Linked DNA regions of Homo sapiens. The protein of the gene in region 1 interacts with the protein of each later gene in a biochemical or structural test. Each region holds a gene or a part of one and is shown in the gene's direction. Other genes may lie near its edges.

Region 1 (3,656 bases):
AGTTGGCAAAGAAACTAGCAGCTGCTAGAGTGCTGGGCTTGGAACCAGGTAAGATGGATTTTAATTGCTTATTTCCCATTTCTCTGGCACCAGTTGATCGTGGAACAGCAGGATGAGCAGTTGGAGCTGGTCTCTGGCAGCATCGGGGTGCTGAAGAACATGTCCCAGCGCATCGGAGGGGAGCTGGAGGAACAGGCAGTGTGAGTATTGAGACACCCCTCTCGCTTCAGTGAAATTGAGGGGCAGAGCCATCCTATGACACCCCTAAAAAGCCTGGCAGCTACGTGGCTGGTAAAATCAAAAGCTATTTTATTCATAGCTGCATTTTTATTCTGTTTTACAGATTAGCCTCCCCAAAAGAAGCAATTCTACTTCGTAAATTTTACTACAGGCTTTAGGTGAAGTTGTTATTATTTTTAAACACCTCCAAAAACAGACACAGATGTCTCTGAGCAGATACTCGAAGTATAGTTATGAATGGGAATATGAAACAGAGAAGCCTCTGTAACCTGTGGGAATTTTTGTTCCAGAGAGGATAGGACATGAGCTGACTTTATCATCCCATGACTCTCCTGCTATATTGAACAGACACGTTTTGCTTTGAATCTTAAATTATTGTAACTTTGTTTTTTTTTTTTAAAAAAAACTTACAAATTTAACGCCAGTTAATAAAAACTCTTTCCTCTCAGAAAAATAAATAAAAACAAAACATAACCTCAGTTTGTTTTTCCTTATGAACAATCCCTTTTGCACCCAGAAGTTCGATGGCAAAAACTGCATTCTTAAATGCTGCCACATCATTTTGTAAATCTTTTGAAAGAGAAAAATGAAAAAACAGTCCACCAGGATATTTCAGAAACTTTCCTGTCTCGATATTACGTTTATCATGACACATTGATTGATTATGAATTCTTAGTGGGCCCGTGTTCTACACCGGGCCTTCTGGAAGCCAAGGGATATAGAAGGGAACAGAGCAGACAAGACAACCCATCTCTGCCAAAGAGTTTGCCGCTTGCAGGGTAGAACGGATATTGGGTAAGTGGCGAGGGGTCATTAGGTGATGGCAGTGAAGTGGGAGGGCCCCTGTGATGGGGCCAGTGCATGCTGCCTGGAGAGCCCTGACTTAGCCCAAGGTCCCTGAGGAAGAGGGGTTTAACTGAAATCTGAAGGATGTGTGGATGCTAGCCAGGTGAGGTGAGAGTTGGTGTGGAGGCAGGTGGTGTGGGGTGTGTAGACCAGGAGGAAGAAAATGCACCTGTGAAGATGGAGAGGTGCACACGTGCATGGAGCAGAGAGGTTCCATGTGTCTGGAGGCAGAGAACAAACCAGGGAAGGCCTTGTCAGCATGGTAAGGAGGTACGACTACTTATTCTCAGCATAATGAGAGACCAGTGGAGGTGAGGTGAGGAGTGATGGTGTGATCAGGTGTGATTTAGATGATGTGCTGCAGTGGAGTCAGGTAGGGAGACCAGGTAGGAAGCTGGAGTAGCCAGAATCTGTTTCATGTCTATCTAAAATGGGTCCTGACCCTAAAGTTCAGTTTGAGGAGGGGAAAGGACTAATGGCCTGAGCTTCTCTGTTGATGAGGCAGCCTGGCTGGGCAGTGGGTAATAGAGTCAGAGGGACTTCCAGTTAAAGATGGTGCATTGACACACCCCTACCTCCACTCCCTCTCCACAGCTCACTAGAACAATAGTAAAGGGGTTTGTTTTTAAGGGCATGAAACCGCTGGGCATGGTGGTTCACACCTGTAGTCCCAAGTACTAGGGAAGGAGGCTGAGGTGGGAGGATTGTTTGAGCCCAGGTGTTTGAGGCTGCAGTGAGCTATGATGGCACCACTGTACTCCAACCTGGGTGACAGAGGAGACCCTGTCTCTAAAAAAATAGAAATAACAGATAAATGGGAAAAAGCATGGGATTTGGACTTAGACCTGTGCCATCCAGTATAATAGCTACTAGCCACATGTGGCTGTTGAGTAAGTGTTATGTGGCCAGTCTGAATTGAGATGTGCTCCAGAGGTAAAATGCTTACTGGATTTTGAAGACTTCATATAGAAAAATATAAAATAGCTTATTAATAATTTTTATATTACATGTTGAAATTACAGTATTTTGGCTATATTAAACTAAATACAACAGAATTAATTTCACCTGTTTCTTTTGAAATTTTTACAAACATGGCTACTAGAAAATGTAAAATGGCATATGTGACTCATATTTTTGTTGGATGGTACTGAGATAGATTTGGGCTAGCAACTTGGTTGGTGAGTGTCCATGGACTGAAGGTCGGATGATGTGCCTGATGATGTGCCTGTTTTGTCTTCAGTATGAAAAGTCATACCTAGCGCAGAAAGGTAGCTCTTGCTTTTTAGAGTTTGGCCCTGCCTGGATAGGCCTGCCAGCTGCAGCGCCAAGATGCTGCCAGGATCTAAAATGAGTTAAATATTTTTTAATTTGAAAATTTAGGTAAGGGACAAAGACTTATTTTAGTTGTCAACATATATGTAACAGTTGATTTAATGAAGAGTTGGTTGCCCTGAATCCTGCAAGGCTGTCAGGTGTCTATTGTGGGCACAGATCAAGACCAGGAGTTTCTAACTGCCATTGATGCTGTCAGAGTTAATACAGCCTTTTTAGTAAGACTGTTAGTACTAATTGGCATATTACATTCTAGCCTCAGAATAATCATTTACTAATCAAAAGTTGAAAAGTCTGGAATATTTAGTGACTTATGAAATAGGCACTGCTGAAATAGTATTTTGGGGTTTTCTTTCCCAGCTGCACATTGGACAGCAAATAGTGTAAGCCTGCTGGAGTCAGTTTTCCTAGTGGGAAATACTGGTTTCTCTGTGAGGACAGATGGGGAAATGCGCGTGTGCATGCACAGACACACTGTCACACACCCCATCAGGGATGTTAGTCCTGAGGCCTTCTGGGTTTATAATAAAGCACGTAGTGCCTTATAGGAGGTTATTTTATTAAAGTACATTCCTTAACTCATATTGACATAAAGTGCTTTTGTTTATTACCTGGTTCTCACAAGAGCCCTGTGAGGGAAGTTGAGCTGATAGGATTGCCCTATTTTACAGGTGAGGAAACAGTCCCAAAGAGTTATAGAGTATGTTGTCGAAGGTAGCAATGTAAACAAGTGGCAAAGCCTGGTTGTCTGCCTCAGATAGCATTGTTTCTACCACATTGCACTGCCACTGAGTTTGTGTTATTGTATAGACAGGTCTATAGTCTTGCAGTTCTGAAATCTAGGAAGCTCTAAAGAAATCTCGTTGTTTTTTTTTTCTTTAAATTTGCCGCAAGCTCATGTTACAGAAAAACCTTACCTGAACTGACTCCAACTGTGATTCCTCATAGTTTTCTCTGCAGAAATATTAAGTATCTGATTACGGGGACTGCCCCAGACCCTCCTGGTGGTGTCCTCCTAGTGGTGTCGACTAATACAAAGGATATGTAATTTAGGCTTTTTTTAATCCTGAGAATTCCAAAATCAAAATCCTATCTTGTCCCAAGGATTTTGGATAACAGAGTGAGGTCCTGAAACCCAGTGTTGCCTATTTTGTTTGCTAAAATGGAGGCCTGGTCCTTTTAACCCAGTGCAAGTGCACTGCCAAGGCTTTGTGCTTACCAGCGACCTTCTGTGTCTG
Region 2 (3,656 bases), on another chromosome or scaffold:
AAAGTGTGGAGGTGAGAGGGTACAAAAAATAATCTCCATTTACTTTTTGTAGTTGCAAATAGGAAAGAGTGACAAAAGAGGAACAGTAGCATGGACATGTGTATGTATGATAAAGCTTAAGACTCAAACAATTAGCAAATTAATAAAATACCTGGTTCCTTTTATGCTTGTATCTAATGAATGATATCTTTATATCTTGATTATATCTTAGTGTGGAAACTTTTTGCCTGAAGCACAGTCTATGGCAAGCAAGATAGAAACTTAAATTTGGAACTTAAAATGCTTTTTTTCATGAGCACTAATGGCTTTAATCAAGGCTCAAAATCTTTTTTTTTTTTTTTTTGAGATGGAGTCTCGCTCTGTCACCCAGGCTGGAGTGCAGTGGCACAGTCTTGGCTCACTGCAACCTCTGCCTCCCAGGTTCAAGCAATTCTCCTGCCTCAGCCTCCCGAGTAGCTGGGATTACAGGCGCTCACCACCACTCCCGGCTAATTTTTGTATTTTTAGTAGAAACGGGGTTTCACCATGTCGATCAAGCTGGCCTCGATCTCCTAACCCCGTGATCCATCCGCCTCGGCCTCCCAAAGTATTGGGATTACAGGCGTGAGCCACTGCGCCTGGCCCTCAAAATCTTAAACCATAAAACAGCTATGACAGTAGAATTATAAACAAGGCCAGGCACGGTGGCTCAGGCCTGCAATCTGGGCACTTTGGGAGGCTGAGGTGGATAGATCACCTGAGGTCTGGAGTTCGAGATCAGCCTGGCCAACATGGTGAAACCCCATCTCTACTAAAAATACAGAAATTAGTGGGGCGTGGTGGTGCATGCCTGTAATCCCAGCTCCTTGGGAGGCTGAGGCAGGAGAATTGCTTGAACCCAGGAGGCAGAAGGTGCAGTGAGTCAGGGTTACACCACTGCACTCCAGCCTGGGCAACAGAGTGAGACTCCATCTCAAAAAAATAAAAAAAATAACATGATAGTAGTGGTTCAATTAAAAACAACTGAAAAGATTTAAATTTTTTTGTTTGTTTGTTTTTTGAGATAGGGTCTTGCTCTGTCACCCAGGCTGGAGTGCAGTGCCATGATCTTGACTTACTTCAGCCTCAACCTCCTGGACTCAAGCAATCCGCCCACCCCAACCTCCCCGGTAGCTGGGACTACAGGTGTGCGCCACCATGCCTGGCTAATTTTTGTATATTTGGTAGAGATGGGGTTTTGCCATGTTGCCCAGGCTGAACTCCAACTCCTGAGCTCAAGCCATCCACTCACCTCAGCCTCCCAAAGTGCTAGGATTCCAGTCATGAGCTACCACACCCAGCCAAAAATGACTGAAAAGATTTATATGTGATCATATCATACACTTGCAATAGCAGTTTTTGGTTTGTGGCTCTAGTGATTCTTTGCGAGCTTTGTGCTACTGTTACATGCAGCTTTGTTTCTAAGAGCCATGTAAATACTTTGAGAGTACACCCTGTTTTTCTACTTATTTGTTCATTCAGCTATTTTTGGAGTATCTACCATCAGATCCTATTAGGTGTTAGAGATACAAAGATAAAATCTCTGCCTTCCAAGAATTCAGTCCAGTACATTCTTGGGGAATTAAGTTTTCTGCTTATCAAAGAGTATATCCATGGCAAGGTTTCTCACCTCAAATTGACATTTTGGGTCAGATTATTCTTTGCTGGAGGGCTTTCCTGAAGAGTGTTGTAGGATGTTAAGCAGTTTCCCTGCCTCTACCTACTAGATGCCATTAACCAGCCCCATCACCTGGCCCAAGTTGTGACAATCAAGCAACTCCAGACATTGCCAGATTCCTGGGGTCAAATCTGTAATAAGAACCAGAGTTTATCTGTGTCATTGACCGTGAGTTTTGATAAATGAGTTTTGAGAAAATTCATACAAAGCTAGCAAATGTAACAAAGAACCTAGATCCGTTGCACAATGCTTGTTATTACTCCACATGACTTCTCAAAGAGGAATTAGATAACAGCCGTGCTGAGTAACACCTACGAAATGTTTTATTTTTTAGCTTGGATGTCTATGAGATCTCCTTCTGAGTTACTGTGTATAGGAGAATAATTGTTTGGTTTCTTAGGGACTCCAGTAAAACAACAAAACAATATAAGCCACTGGAGGGGAAGAGTCTAATGCATAATAAAAACCTTAGTCTTTTCCGAGCTGTTTGTACCAGCATTTCCCTTTTCTTGTTAAGAGTGAAAGTATTTTCTCCAGTGAGTGTCCTGGACAACTGGCATATTTAGAAATGTTTCCTGTGTTCTTCAGGCACATAACTTCAAATTTTGTTACTTTACTAAATTGGACTTTTCTTCACCTACTGCTTTTCCATGTTCAGACAACACATGAAGAACATTGAACAACCAAAAATTCACTTTAATAGTCTTTTAATGCTTGTCTTCCAGTAATGCCTTGCTTCTCTAAGTAGAGGATCCACTTTCCTGTTGGAAAGAGTACTTCCCTAGAAGTCCTAAAACCTGTATTTTAGGTTCACCCTTGGCACTCTTATTAAACATTCATTTAGCCTCTCTCGGTCTTGATTTCTTTACTTGTGGTAGACTAATAGATATAGAAAGAGGTTCTTTTATCCTGTTTTCCTGATAAGTTCCTAAATTCCATAAATCTACACTTTTTGCTCACACAAACTTTTATATATCCTTATTCTTATACAATATCCACATTTCCATTTCTGTGCCTAATAGAGTTTTGATTCATCATGGATAATCTGTCATCAGAAGAAATTCAACAGAGAGCTCACCAGATTACTGATGAGGTAAATGTTTTACCTAAAATAAGTAAATAATTCTATTTCAGTTTTCATATTGGAGGAGTGAGAGAGCCTTCTTAGGGACATTTTGGCCTCTTCCTAGTCCATTAATATCAAAGAACACATTTGCTCCTTAGTGCCATTGCTGGTTTTTATTTTCTTTTTAACTCACCAGAAAACTAAAGTGAAAACAATTTGTATGATTTTTATTTTTTAGGTAATTATTAATATTACTTAAGTGTAACAAAGATACTCTACTATGTATTTGAGAAATGCTAGACTTCTATTTAACAATTTCCTAATATCTGTAATTTACTTAGATTTCTACCTACATTAAATTTTTATTCCCATGAACTTCACCATCCAAATATTCTCTTTTTTAAAAAAACTTTTTCTTTCAACATCACACTGGAAGTCCTTACACATTTTCTCTTAAGGAGCGCCTGAAAATAACTAAAAATGTAGTGATCAACTTACTTTTTTTTTTTTTTTTTTTTTTGAGACGGAGTCTCACTCTATTGCCCAGGCTGGAGTATAGTGATGCGATCTCGGCTTATTGCAACCTCTGCCTCCTGTGTTCAAGCGATTCTCCTGCCTCAGCCTCCTGAGTAGCTGGGATTATAGGTGTGTGCCACCACGCCCAGCTAATTTTTGTATTTTTAGTAGAGATGGGGTTTCACCTTGTTGGGCAGGCTGGTCTCAAACTTCTGACCTCGTGATCCGCCCACCTCAGCCTCCCAAAGTGCTGGGATTATAGGCTTGAACCACCACACCCGGCCATTGTTTTGTTTTAAAGGGAAGGATAGGCTGGCAATTCTTTTTGTTTTTTCCTTTAATGGAAACAGTCTCACTATGTTGTCTGGGCTGGTCTTG

Evidence for each region.
Region 2: the proteins of STX6 (region 1) and SNAP23 form a complex in vitro, tested with the Homo sapiens proteins (one study listed by BioGRID).

Annotation. Positions count from the first base shown.
Region 1 is NC_000001.11:180,984,783-180,988,438, reverse strand, and holds part of STX6 (syntaxin-6), read left to right. Parts: intron 1-93; coding exon 94-200; intron 201-3,656. UniProt on the Homo sapiens protein: SNARE promoting movement of transport vesicles to target membranes. Targets endosomes to the trans-Golgi network, and may therefore function in retrograde trafficking.
Region 2 is NC_000015.10:42,509,115-42,512,770, forward strand, and holds part of SNAP23 (synaptosomal-associated protein 23), read left to right. Parts: intron 1-2,718; 5' UTR 2,719-2,732; coding exon 2,733-2,789; intron 2,790-3,656. UniProt on the Homo sapiens protein: Essential component of the high affinity receptor for the general membrane fusion machinery and an important regulator of transport vesicle docking and fusion.